Linked DNA regions of Homo sapiens. The protein of the gene in region 1 purifies or fractionates together with the protein of each later gene. This does not show direct contact. Each region holds a gene or a part of one and is shown on either strand. Other genes may lie near its edges.

Evidence for each region.
Region 2: the proteins of FSHR (region 1) and ENTREP3 purify together in Homo sapiens (affinity purification with mass spectrometry; 2 studies listed by BioGRID and IntAct, with this or other methods). This does not show direct contact.
Region 3: the proteins of FSHR (region 1) and DNAJC18 purify together in Homo sapiens (affinity purification with mass spectrometry; 2 studies listed by BioGRID and IntAct, with this or other methods). This does not show direct contact.

What each region holds. Positions count from the first base shown.
Region 1 is NC_000002.12:49,147,782-49,151,531, forward strand, and holds part of FSHR (follicle-stimulating hormone receptor isoform 1 precursor), read right to left. Parts: intron 1-3,750. UniProt on the Homo sapiens protein: G protein-coupled receptor for follitropin, the follicle-stimulating hormone. Through cAMP production activates the downstream PI3K-AKT and ERK1/ERK2 signaling pathways.
Region 2 is NC_000001.11:155,248,884-155,252,633, forward strand, and holds part of ENTREP3 (protein ENTREP3), read right to left. Parts: intron 3,026-3,750; coding exon of another isoform or gene 3,023-3,025; coding exon 2,850-3,022; intron 2,719-2,849; coding exon 2,619-2,718; intron 2,282-2,618; coding exon 2,212-2,281; intron 1,939-2,211; coding exon 1,393-1,938; intron 1-1,392.
Region 3 is NC_000005.10:139,437,340-139,441,089, forward strand, and holds the start of DNAJC18 (dnaJ homolog subfamily C member 18), read right to left. Parts: upstream 2,187-3,750; 5' UTR 2,107-2,186; coding exon 2,067-2,106; intron 220-2,066; coding exon 33-219; intron 1-32.

The DNA.
Region 1 (3,750 bases):
TTAAATTCCAAATGTTGGACATAGACATATCATTTCTCACAAAAGTAGGTGCAGGATTTTATGTCAAGAGAAAGGATTATGTATATATTAGTGTGAACGCTGTGCTGTTTGTTTCTGTCAAAGAAGTACCTAAACAAGGCTATAGGAGACTCCAAACATGGGCACTCAGGGCAATTTGCACAGTGGGGTGTTCAGTTTTGATAATCAGAGAGAACTACGACAATCAAAGTACATCTGAGGAATATAGAAAACTTAAAATTCAGGGTCTAGAATCTGACCTTAATTGGCAAAAATTATATTTTTTGAACACTTCTGTCTGGTTTAAAGTGATTTTGTTTGGGCAAAATCACTTTCCTCTTTTCGATATTTTTGTTAGGTATAGAGAGGCAAGTATTATCACGTAAGTCAAGAGAATTGAATGATGTGCCTAGAGTATAGAATATTCAACTTTTAACTCAGTAGACCTTGTTTCTAGTCAACGTCTCTTTCTTTCTGTATAAATTAATGGATTCTGGAATGACACACAGGAATTTTCTTAAAACAAACACATAAAAAAGCAAGGAAAATAAGAAAGCTATCCGATCCTATACTAGTTCACTGCAGGAGAAAGTAATAATCATCTTTTATAAGAATTCTTTATTCAATACTGAGGAGCAGAGCAAATAAACAGATGTAATTCCTCCTGATTTATCGAATCATTTGTACTACCTGTAATTGAGCGTCCAGAATACACATCGTATTGAACCAGACACACTAAGGTGTACAAAGGAAATTTTCACTACAGTTGAGGAAATAAGACACACATGAAAAATTAAACGCAAGGCAAGATTAAGTGTGAAATGAACTGCACCAGTGTTTGAATGAAAGCAAGTTTAAATAAAGACGGAGTGGTAAGGGAAGACTTCATGAAAGAGGCAACCTTTGAGCAAGATTATAATAAGGCTGAATTTCAAGAAACAAAGAATAAACTGAGAATAGTACAAACAGGAGGCATAACGTAAAGACACAAAGAGGTAGAAATGCACAAACTATGCTTGAGCCCTGTGGAGTAGGCTCCTGTTGGAGAATAAAGAGAGGTAAAGTCAGAAAGATGAGCTATTGAATGTTTTTGAACTGGGAAATCACAACATGGTGGCAGTGGTGTTTTATGGAGAAAATAGAATGACGGTGTGCAGGCTAGTTTGGAGAAAAGAGGGATTGATAAGAAAGACATAAATTAGGAAGTAATTATATAATCCAGGATTTAGATTGCCAGGGCCGAAGCAAAGATAATGGTAATTTTTTTAAAAAAAATATTATTATTAGTAGCAGAAATATGAAAGGAACTTGTAAACTGATTAGATGGGTAACCAGAAAAGTTTGAAACCTATATGATGAGGAGAAGTAAACTGTCAACATTCAACAAATGAGGAAGTTAGGAATGGTTTTTATAGTTTTGTAATCCATTGTTTTATCTTCTCTTTCTTCACCTCAGAACAGGTAATACCTGGTTACCTCATGGTTACCTATAGTCTATACTTCAGAACCATCTCCTTCATGAGAACACAGCACACTTTAAAATACCTACTTGTCAGGCACAAAGCAATAAAAACGAATCCAAGAGTCCTTTTCTAGATGTGATATTGAACACTGAATCTGAGAGTCAAGAGGCCTGGGTTGTGGTTCAGACTTTAGAAGGAATTTATCCTGATGGCTGGGGTTGGATAGACCAGCCTTTCCCAAAGTGACCTCTGTGGAATGTTAATCCTCAGAATACTCTTAGAAAAGTGGCTCAGTTTGCAAACATCAAAAACTCTGTTTCACTCTTAAGACATCACAGAACGCCTTGGTATAGCAAAGGCTACCCTTTTTGTACACGATTGATACATCCCTCTGAACTAAGGACCTATTAAACAAAGACTAACCTAGACACACTTTAAAATTCCTAATAATAATCTGTGGTTATGGAATATGGAGATCTAAACCAGGATGAAAAAATAAGGAATGTAAGCCAAAGAAAGAAAATAAAAAGAGGAAAAGATAATTTGATAATTAGAAGTAAATGCTAGTGAAAAGAGATTGCAATGAGATATGGGAACTTGCTATAAGGACAAGGTTTAACACAGGCAGCCTATAATATAATCCCAGGACAGGTTTCCTTAAGACAAGAATGACCATCAATAGACCCTTTTCTTCTTTAGTATTATAATCATCTGACCCTGCTGAAGAAAAACATCATTACGTCCATACTGTTGCCTAGACTTCAAATTTCAGATGTAGAATGGGTGTTTGCATTCTCCTTAGGAATTCTAACTGCAGGAAGAATAAAGTAAGATCAAAGGCACTTTTCTAGATCCACTGACTGCCTCTAGGTGAAGCTGAGTTTCTAAGATAAGTCAGAAACCAAAATTCCTTTGACTATAGTCAGAATGAACCTGCTCCCTGAGTTCTTGACAAATATGGACAGCGTTAAGGGACACATTTTCTTACCCAGAAAGTAAGTCCATGGAGATTAAGTGCTAGATACCCTGGGAGGAGATTATTCTTAAACAAATGGGAGGTTGTAAACTACCTCAGAGTTATAAAGATCTTTATATCAATTTTCCAAAATCAGTCTCATATCTCTTGACTGACTTGGTCCTCACGAAAGCCCTCTGTGGTAGATAATTTTTGCCTAATATTTTACAGTTGAGAGCAACATTATTATCATCAACAACAATAACAACATGAGAGATATTGTGCAAAGTGTTTCACCCACATTGTCTCATGTAATCCTCATAGCATCTCTGTCAGTTAGGCACACATGGTGATTTCCATTATACAGCCAAAGGTCCAGATAACAGAGCTAAAATTTAATGGAACATCCTGGGTTTAAACTCAGGTCTCTCAGATTCTAAACACTATACTCCACCATCTCTGACTCATCAGAACCAGCTAAAGGCTGCCCGTGAGTGAACCTGCTCCCCTAGTTTAGTACTTTCTCCATGGTGCCATGGTGCCTCAGGCTGCCTAAACCCCACTCAAACTAGTAATACTTAACCCACTCTCTCAGCTATAGTCTAAATCAGAAGTGGGCAATACATAGTCCATGGGCCAAATTTGGCTTGCCCCATGTTTTTCTATGGCCAGTAAGCTAAAAATCTTTCTCACCTTTTCACATGGTTGAAAAAAATCAAAATAATGCTTTTTTGTGTGACATGACAATTATATGAAATTCAAATTTCTGTGTTCATAAATAAAGTTTTCTTGGAACATGTCCATGTTCATTAATTTACATGTTGTTTATGGCTGCTTTTCTGCTACTGTGATAGAAGTGAGTAGTTGCAAGAAGTGGTATAGCCCATAAAGCTGACTTCTGGTTTAAAATGTAAAGGATTACTCTTTTTTTTTTTTTTTTTTCAGAATAAGAAAGGTATAGAGTCAGATGATGTTCATTTCACATGGCATGCAGAGGAGATATAAAAGATTCAAATTTGGATCCCAGCTCTGCCATCCAGGAGCTGCAGGGATAATTGCCAGAGCTACTCAACTTTTTTGTGCTTTGGTTTGTCTTATTTGAAAAACAGAGCAATAATTCCAAACTTGCAGTTTTTGGTGAAGTTTTAATGAAGTAGTATGTACAAAACATACTGCATAAAGCAAATAGTAGGAGCCCCTTAGTAAATGAAATCTACTTGCCTGTTGATGGTGCTTCTGTTCTTTTAGCATTAATATCAGCATGTGCAGATCATAGGAAATTAGCAATCTTTCGTGATAGCTGGCAGATGTATC
Region 2 (3,750 bases), on another chromosome or scaffold:
TTTCAATTTTTAGTAGAGATGGGGGTTTCACCATGTTGGCTAGGCTGGTCTTGAACTCCTGACCTCAGGTGATCCACCTGCCTTGGCCTCCCAAAGTGCTGGGATTATAGGTGTGAACAGCCTTGCCCGGCCACTGTCTCCTTTCTCAGCATCTTCGAGTACAATGCCTATGGCTGAAGTACTGTTATTATACATGTTTTTTGTTTGTTTGTTTGTGTTTTTGAGATGGAGTGTGTCTCTGTCACCCAGGCTGGAGTGCAGTGGCATGATCTTGGCTCACGGCAACCCCTGCTTTCCAGGTTCAAGCGATTCTCCTGCCTTAGCCTCTCTGTTAGTAGCTGGAATTACAGGCGCGCTCCACCACACCTGGCTAATTTTTGTATTTTTAGTAGAGATAGGGTTTCACCATGTTAGCCAGGCTGGTCTCGAACTCCCGACCTCAGGTGATCCACCCACCTCAGCTTCCCACAGTGCTGGGATTACAGGTGCAAGCCACCGTGCCCGGCCTGAAGTACTATTATTATACATGTTTAACAAGTGACAGCTGAAGCTTGGGGAGGACAGATAAGTGGACCAAGCTGAGAGCTGTGGAACTGGTTTCAAAAAATAAATCCTTTTGGGAGGCCGAGGCGGGTGGATCACTTGAGGTCAGGAGTTCAAGACCAGCCTGGCCAAAAGGGTGAAACCCTGTCTCTACTAAAAAATACAAAAATTGCCCGGGCACGGTGACTCATGCCTGTAATCCCAGCACTTTGGGAGGCCGAGGCGGGCAGATCACGAGGTCAGGAGATTGAGACCATCCTGGATAACACGGTGAAACCCCATCTCTACTAAAAATACAAAAAAATAGCCGGGCGTGGTGGCAGGCATCTGTAGTCCCAGCTACTCACTACTCGGGAGGCTGAGGAAGGAGAATGGCGTGAACCCGGGAGGCGGAGCTTGCAGTGAGCCCAGATCGCGCGGCTGCACTCCAGCCTGGGTGACAGAGCGAGACACCGTCTCAAAAAAAAAAAAAAAAAAAAATATTAGCCGGTCATGGTGGCGCACACCTGTAGTCCCAGCTACTCGGCAGGCTGAAGCAGGAGAGAGTCACTTGAACCCGGGAAACGGGTTGCAGTGAGCCAAGATCATGCCACTGCACTCCAGCCTGGGCGACAGAGCCAGAGACTCCGTCTCAAAAAAAAAAAAAAATTCTCCTTTTTTAGCTGCTAAGCTATGGATGTTCTGTCCCTAGGAGGTGAGTACCTGAGAAGTGTCTACCAGAGGAGTGAACTCACCCTTTCTTCCTCCTCAGGGACCTCAACTGTGCCCCAATCCTGGTGGGCATCACTGGCCACCTAACTCCCAGTGCCTACCCTCTCCTGAGCCTGGGCAGTCGGGGAGGGGGCTCACCAGTGTCACTGGAGGTCGTGATGCCTGGGTCGCTGTGGGACCGTGGCAGCAGCAGCGGTGGTGGGGATGCCGGATGAGGAGGCCGGTGCCCCGGTGGGGTGAGGGAACCTGAGCTATCGCTGAAGCGACGAGTCGGGGCTCGGGTGGGCGGGGCTGCGGCTGGGCGGCCCCCTCCCCGGGGGACCCGCCGCCTCAGCTCGGGGAAGCAGGGTCCCACCCAGGGCGGCCAGCCCTCCAACCGGTGGCAGCTGCGGGCAGCTGTGGGGGCACCCAGTGGGGGTGGAGCTTCAGGGGCAGAGCAGGAATAGGAGCGGGCAGCCCGTGGGGGGCGCCGTGGCAGGGGGCTTTCCTCGAAGGGGCCCCGCAGGCCACAGTCCAGGCTGAGGCAGTAGCCGGCACGGCTGCGCTGGATGGAGCGAAAGAGAACGTAGTCCACGGAGCGCACGGAGCCCTGCAGCTCCAGCAGGCACGAGTCCTCCGACGGGCTAGAGCCCCCAGGGAGGTCACCAATGGCTGACAGCACCAGAGACCCGCTGTCCATGGACACTGTGGGCGGCAGGGGGCGCTGTGTAGCACCAGCCTGGCCTGGCCTAGCCCTGCCCAGGCAGTTCCTCTTCTCCCAAGCCCAGCCTCTAGGGGCCACTGTGCCTCCAGCTTTATCTCAGAGGAGAAAAATAAGTCCAGGGTTCCAAGTTGCCACAGCCCTCCTATGTCCCCAAACCACCAACTCCGCCTTGTTTTCCCCTTCTATTGTCTCTACCCACCCCAGCTATCCCTGGCAGCCCCGCCCTTGTCCACCCCTCATTACGCCCTGCTCACCGTCTACAATGGAGGCCACTCGTTCACAGATGCACGAGCCATCGTGAAGCTGAGGGTCAAAGAGAGTGGCCTGCAGAAGACACAGGGTCAAGGGTTCAGCCCTACACACTGAACACCCCCATGTGCTAGACAGAGCTCTGGAGACTTAGATTCCAGACCAGCCTTGTCCCTTTGTACAAGTCACTTAATTGTGCAGCCTCAGCTTCCACGTCTGTATGGCAGAAATGATAGCTTCCAACCCACTCACCTCACCAGGCTCTAGGGAAGATCAAAGGCAACAGTGGGCATGCTGGTGCTGTAAAGACCTTGACCACTGTTACTATCTTTATCCAGAGGCTACAGCCTGTTCAGCTTTCCAGGCTACAACCCGGCTCCCCAGCCCGCCCCAAGCCGTGCTGTGCTCTCACCTGGCTGTCTCCTCGTAGTCCCATGACTGCCTCATAAGAAGGGGGGCAATCGGTAGGGTACAAGGGCACTGGGCTGTCCATGGAGCCATTGTACGTGATGCTGGCAGATGAGGAAGAGGGTCAATGTAGGAGAAATAATTCCCCCTCCACAAAGATCCCTCTCTCCAGCAATCCAGGCCCAGCCCCAGTCCCCTTCCTTAGCTCCCCCAGCAAGACCCCACCAGGCCTTACCTCTGTGCATCTGTTTCTGAGCTGCAGGTATACTCTGGGGGATAGTAGGGCGGTGGGGGCACAGGCGGGACAAATTCCTCCAGGTCCAGCATGGTGTGTAGGAGAGGGGCTGGGGGCGGGGACGTGCAGCCCAGAGGTCCCAGTGGGCCTGAGACTGACCGCTCAGGGGCCAGCTGCTGGGGAAGCGAGCAGGTCAGCAAGTCTGGATTCTGGGAATACAGCTCCTCCTGGGCCCCCAAACTCCTCTCTCATCTACATTATTTTTTCTGGCCCTATCCCCTGAGAGAAGCTCTTGTTCTGGCCCCTCCCTCACCCAAAATCAGCTCTCCTTAACCCCACGCTCACCCTGTACCTCTAGCTCTGGCCCTGCCCACCCACAAATTCCTCTTTATGGCCCCACCTCCATCCAGAAGCTCCACACATTCTGTGTCTTCACAGGAATGTCCACCCTTTAGCCTCACCTCCATCTAGGACCTTCTTTTTTTTTTTGAGACAGAGTCTGACTCTGTTGCTGGAGTGCAGTGGCGCGATCTCAGCTCACTGCAACCCCCACCTCCCAAGATCAAGCAATTCCCATGCCTCATCCTCCTGAGTAGCTGGAATTATAAGGGTGTGCAACCATGCCCAGCTAATTATTATTATTATTATTATTTCGAGACGAAGTTTCACTCTTGTCGCCCAGGCTGGAGTACAATGGCTACATCTCAGCTCACTGCAACCTCTGCCTCCCAGGTTCAAGCGATTCTCCAGCCTCAGTCTTCCGAGTAGCTGGGATTACAGGCACCCGCCACCACACCCGGATAATTTTTGTATTTTTAGTAGAGATAGGGTTTCGCCATGTTGGCCAGGCTGGTGTCAAACTCCTGATATCTGGTGATCCTCCTGCCTTGGCCTCCCAAAG
Region 3 (3,750 bases), on another chromosome or scaffold:
AAATCACTCATTTAATCTCACCACATGCTCACCTTTGTACCCCAAGCAGCTGTTCCTCACTATACGTGGAGTTCCCCTCACCCTGCCGGGTCTGAGTCCACTCATTCTCAGACTTCTTTTCCTTTTGTGCCTTCATGCAGTTACAGCAGCCACAGGGGTCATGACTCTCAGGAGGTGTGTCTTCTGGGTATTTGTTTCTTCTAACTGCGTCAATGTAAGCTGCAAACAACAGCCCCTCCATTAGGTCTCCATCTGACCCTGAAAATCAACTTTGCAACCTGCCTTTCCTCTCTGGGAGGCTGCTCGTAAGCATGAGAAGGTAAGCATGATGGCCAGGGCTAGAGGCGTCATGCTGACTTTTAAGCACTCATACAAAGCTGAATAAACATGTTTCTCTGTGGTCCGTGGTCAGAAGAGACACTGCTCGTAAAATAGTATTTTTTGTTGCAGTGCCTCCCACCCCTAAAATTTAAAGTAGAGAGGAGTTCAATTCTTTTACACTAACAATTATAGAACTAATATATACCAAGGAACTTGGCTAGAAGATCAAGAGGGCGGATGGGTAAGATCTACTCCTGACCACAAAGAGGTTAGTTTAATGCAAGCTTGTCCAACCCGCGGCCCACAGGTGGCATGTGGCCCAGCACGGCTTTGAGCTCAATACAAATTCGTAAACTTTCTTAGAACATTATGAGGGCCGGGCGCGGTGGCTCACGCCTGTAATCCCAGCACTTTGGGAGGCCAAGGCGGGCGGATCACGAGGTCAGGAGATCGAGACCATCCTGGCTAACACCGTGAAACTCCGTCTCTACTAAAAATACAACAAATTAGCCGGGCGTGGTGGCAGGCGCCTGTAGTCCCAGCTACTCGGGAGGCTGAGGCAGGAGAATGGCGTGAACCCGGGAGGCGGAGGTTGCAGTGAGCCGAGATCGCGCTACTGCACTCCAGCCTGGGTGATAGAGCGAGACTCCGTCTCAAAAAAAAAAAAAAGAACATTATGAGATTTTTTTTTGCAATTTTTTTAAAGTTCATTAGCTGTCATCAGTTAGTTATTTAGTCGTCAGTTAGTGTATTTTATGTGTGGCCCAAGACAATTCTTCTTCCAATGTGGTCCAGGGAAGCCAAAAGATTGGATACCCCTGGTTTAAAGGGAGAAGATTCAATAACAACACCTGCAGAATGTAAAGAGGGTCATAAGCAATACAGTCAAAAGGGGCAGAGCACTCATGTCTTCTCTGGAGGACCTGAGAAAGGCTTTAACAACATCTTTCTTCCGCTTAACATCCCTCAGCTACCTCCACCCACTGCTCCTGGACAGTCTTCCTCTAAGTCGGCCTGGCTAACTCCGACGCATCCTTCTTGTCACCATTTGTAACACTTTCTGCAAGAAACCTCCCTTGACAGCCAGTCTGCGTTAGGTACCTTGTAAGTGTGCTCTCCAAATCCCTGACCTTGCTGTGTAGCCCAGGCGTTTTGTATTATTCGCCCGTTTTGTAATTGGCTGTTCAGTCGTCAAACTCTCTCAGTGGGCTGCGAGTTTTGTGAGCTAAGGGACCCATGTCAGTCAAATCCCCACTGCAGAATCAGCATTAGGCGGGGCACACAATAGGTATTGGATCAATATTTTTTGCCTGACTGTAGGGTGGAAAAGGCTGGTCCTGATGCCGGCTGGAGCGACATGATCAAACAGGGACTGAAGGTCAGGTGGCCCAGTTAGGCGAAAGATAAGGGCCAGGTTAGCAAGCTGCGGAGAGACCGCAGCACCCCACGGGCCCTCCAGTCACCTTGGCATGGGCGGGGCCTGACAGCTGCGGGCCCTGGGCGGGGCACGGGCGGGGGCGGGGCTGGGGGCCGGAGGCAACAAGTCGTCACCGGTGACTCTGGGCTCGCGGTCGGTCCCCAGCTTCCCTACCCCATCCGCAACCCTACTCAGGCTCAGCATCTTTTCACAGGCCTCTATCCATCACCTCAGACCCAGGATCTCAGCCCTTGTGCGTCTTCAGGATCCTCATCCCTGATCTCTCCCGAAGGCCGCCCTATCCCTCCTTCAGGCGGGGACCTAGTACCTTCCGTCCAGCGCTCCCCGCTGCCCAGAGTCGCCGCCATATCGGTTCCCAATCAGCAGGTCCGCCGAGCCTCCCCCGTGCCCGAGGCTGAAAGAGAAGGGGGCGCGGAGCGCGGGGCACGCTGGTCATTGTAGTCCAGTCCATATGAGCTCCCGGGGCACTGGACTACAACTCCCGGCAGGCTCTGCGCCAGAGGCCGTGGGAGACGCAGAGAAGTGCTCGACCTTCGTCAGGAGATCTGTGGAAGAGTGCTGCTGCCAGCTGCCAGCTGCCTGCAGCACGGCTCTTGGCTTTTCCTCATTTGTAGAGTTGGGATAGTGGCTTCGGCCCTGCCTAACCCTAGGGACATCCAAGGAGGGGCGACTGAAGTCCTGCCTGGAAAGGGCTTCGCAAACTATAGGCTAGAGGGTGACAGTATGACTATTATGCTCCTCAGGGATGTCTTTTTGAAGCATACGCTAATGCCTGTTCTGTGCAGTCAGTGGTAGGCCCTGGAGATTCAGAGATGGGTTTTGGGGATGCGGAACCCAGCCTTTGGAAGCTTGAGTCAGGAAAATAGAAAAGTGATGTAGATTTATGGGGTTGGAGGGCAATCTCAGTATGTCCCTACTGCCCCAGCTCCTCAGGCACTGGACATCAGAGGGTATCGGGGTGGAGAAAGAAGACATGGAAAGGTATTGGGGCCGGCATGAAGAGCCTCCATCTTTGCTGTTCCTGTCCTTCCTCCAACCCATCCTACTCCAACACCCCTCTGACACTTTTCTCCTCTCTTCCAGTCTAGTTATCTCTTTAGCCCATTCGTTTCTTTTCTGAAGGACCAGACATTGAGATTAGTAAAAAGGAAATGAGGAAATAAATATTCTTGCTGTTCCTCATCCAGGTATGGATGGAACCTAGCAAAGAATAAAAGCAACACTTTCTTCATAGGTGGATGGCTACAGTTCATCCCCAAACAAAAAATTACCCAGAATTAACTGAGGTCTTACCCAAGAAGACCAAATCAATCATGATATCAACTAGCACCTACTTAGGCAGTTGGGGAGAGATGTATATTCCTGGACATAAACTTGGAAGGGTAAAAGCACCAAAGGGCATGCAGTTCCAGCCCTTGCCTACAGTCATGGCCCTGGCATCACTGACATTATGCCCACTTAAGAACTCAGAGAACGGCCGGGCGCGGTGGCTTATGCCTGTAATCCCAACACTTTGGGAGGCCGCGGCAGGCGGATCGCGAGGTCAGGAGATCGAGACCATTCTGACCAACATGGTGAAACCCCGTCTCTACCAAAAATACAAAAATTAGCTGGGCATGGTGGCGTGTGCCTGTAGTCCCAGCTGCTCGGGAGGGAGGCTGAGGCAGGAGAATCGCTTGAACCCAGGGGGCGGAGGTTGTAGTGAGCCAAGATCGCGTCACTGCACTCCAGCCTGGGTGACAGAGTGAGACTCTGTCTCAGAAAAAAAACAAAAAACAAAACTCAGATAACAAGGCCTTTCAAGTGGAAAAAGCACTGGTCTAGAAGTTGTATAGGTGTTATATTAATAGCTGGGGTTTTGCCACAAATCATTGCGTGATCCTGAACATCTCCTTTTTCCTTCTTCTTTGGCCTCAGTCTCATCACCTATAAAACGAGAAGGTTGGATTCAATTAGTAGTTTTGTTTGTTTGCTTTTTGAGACAGAGTCTT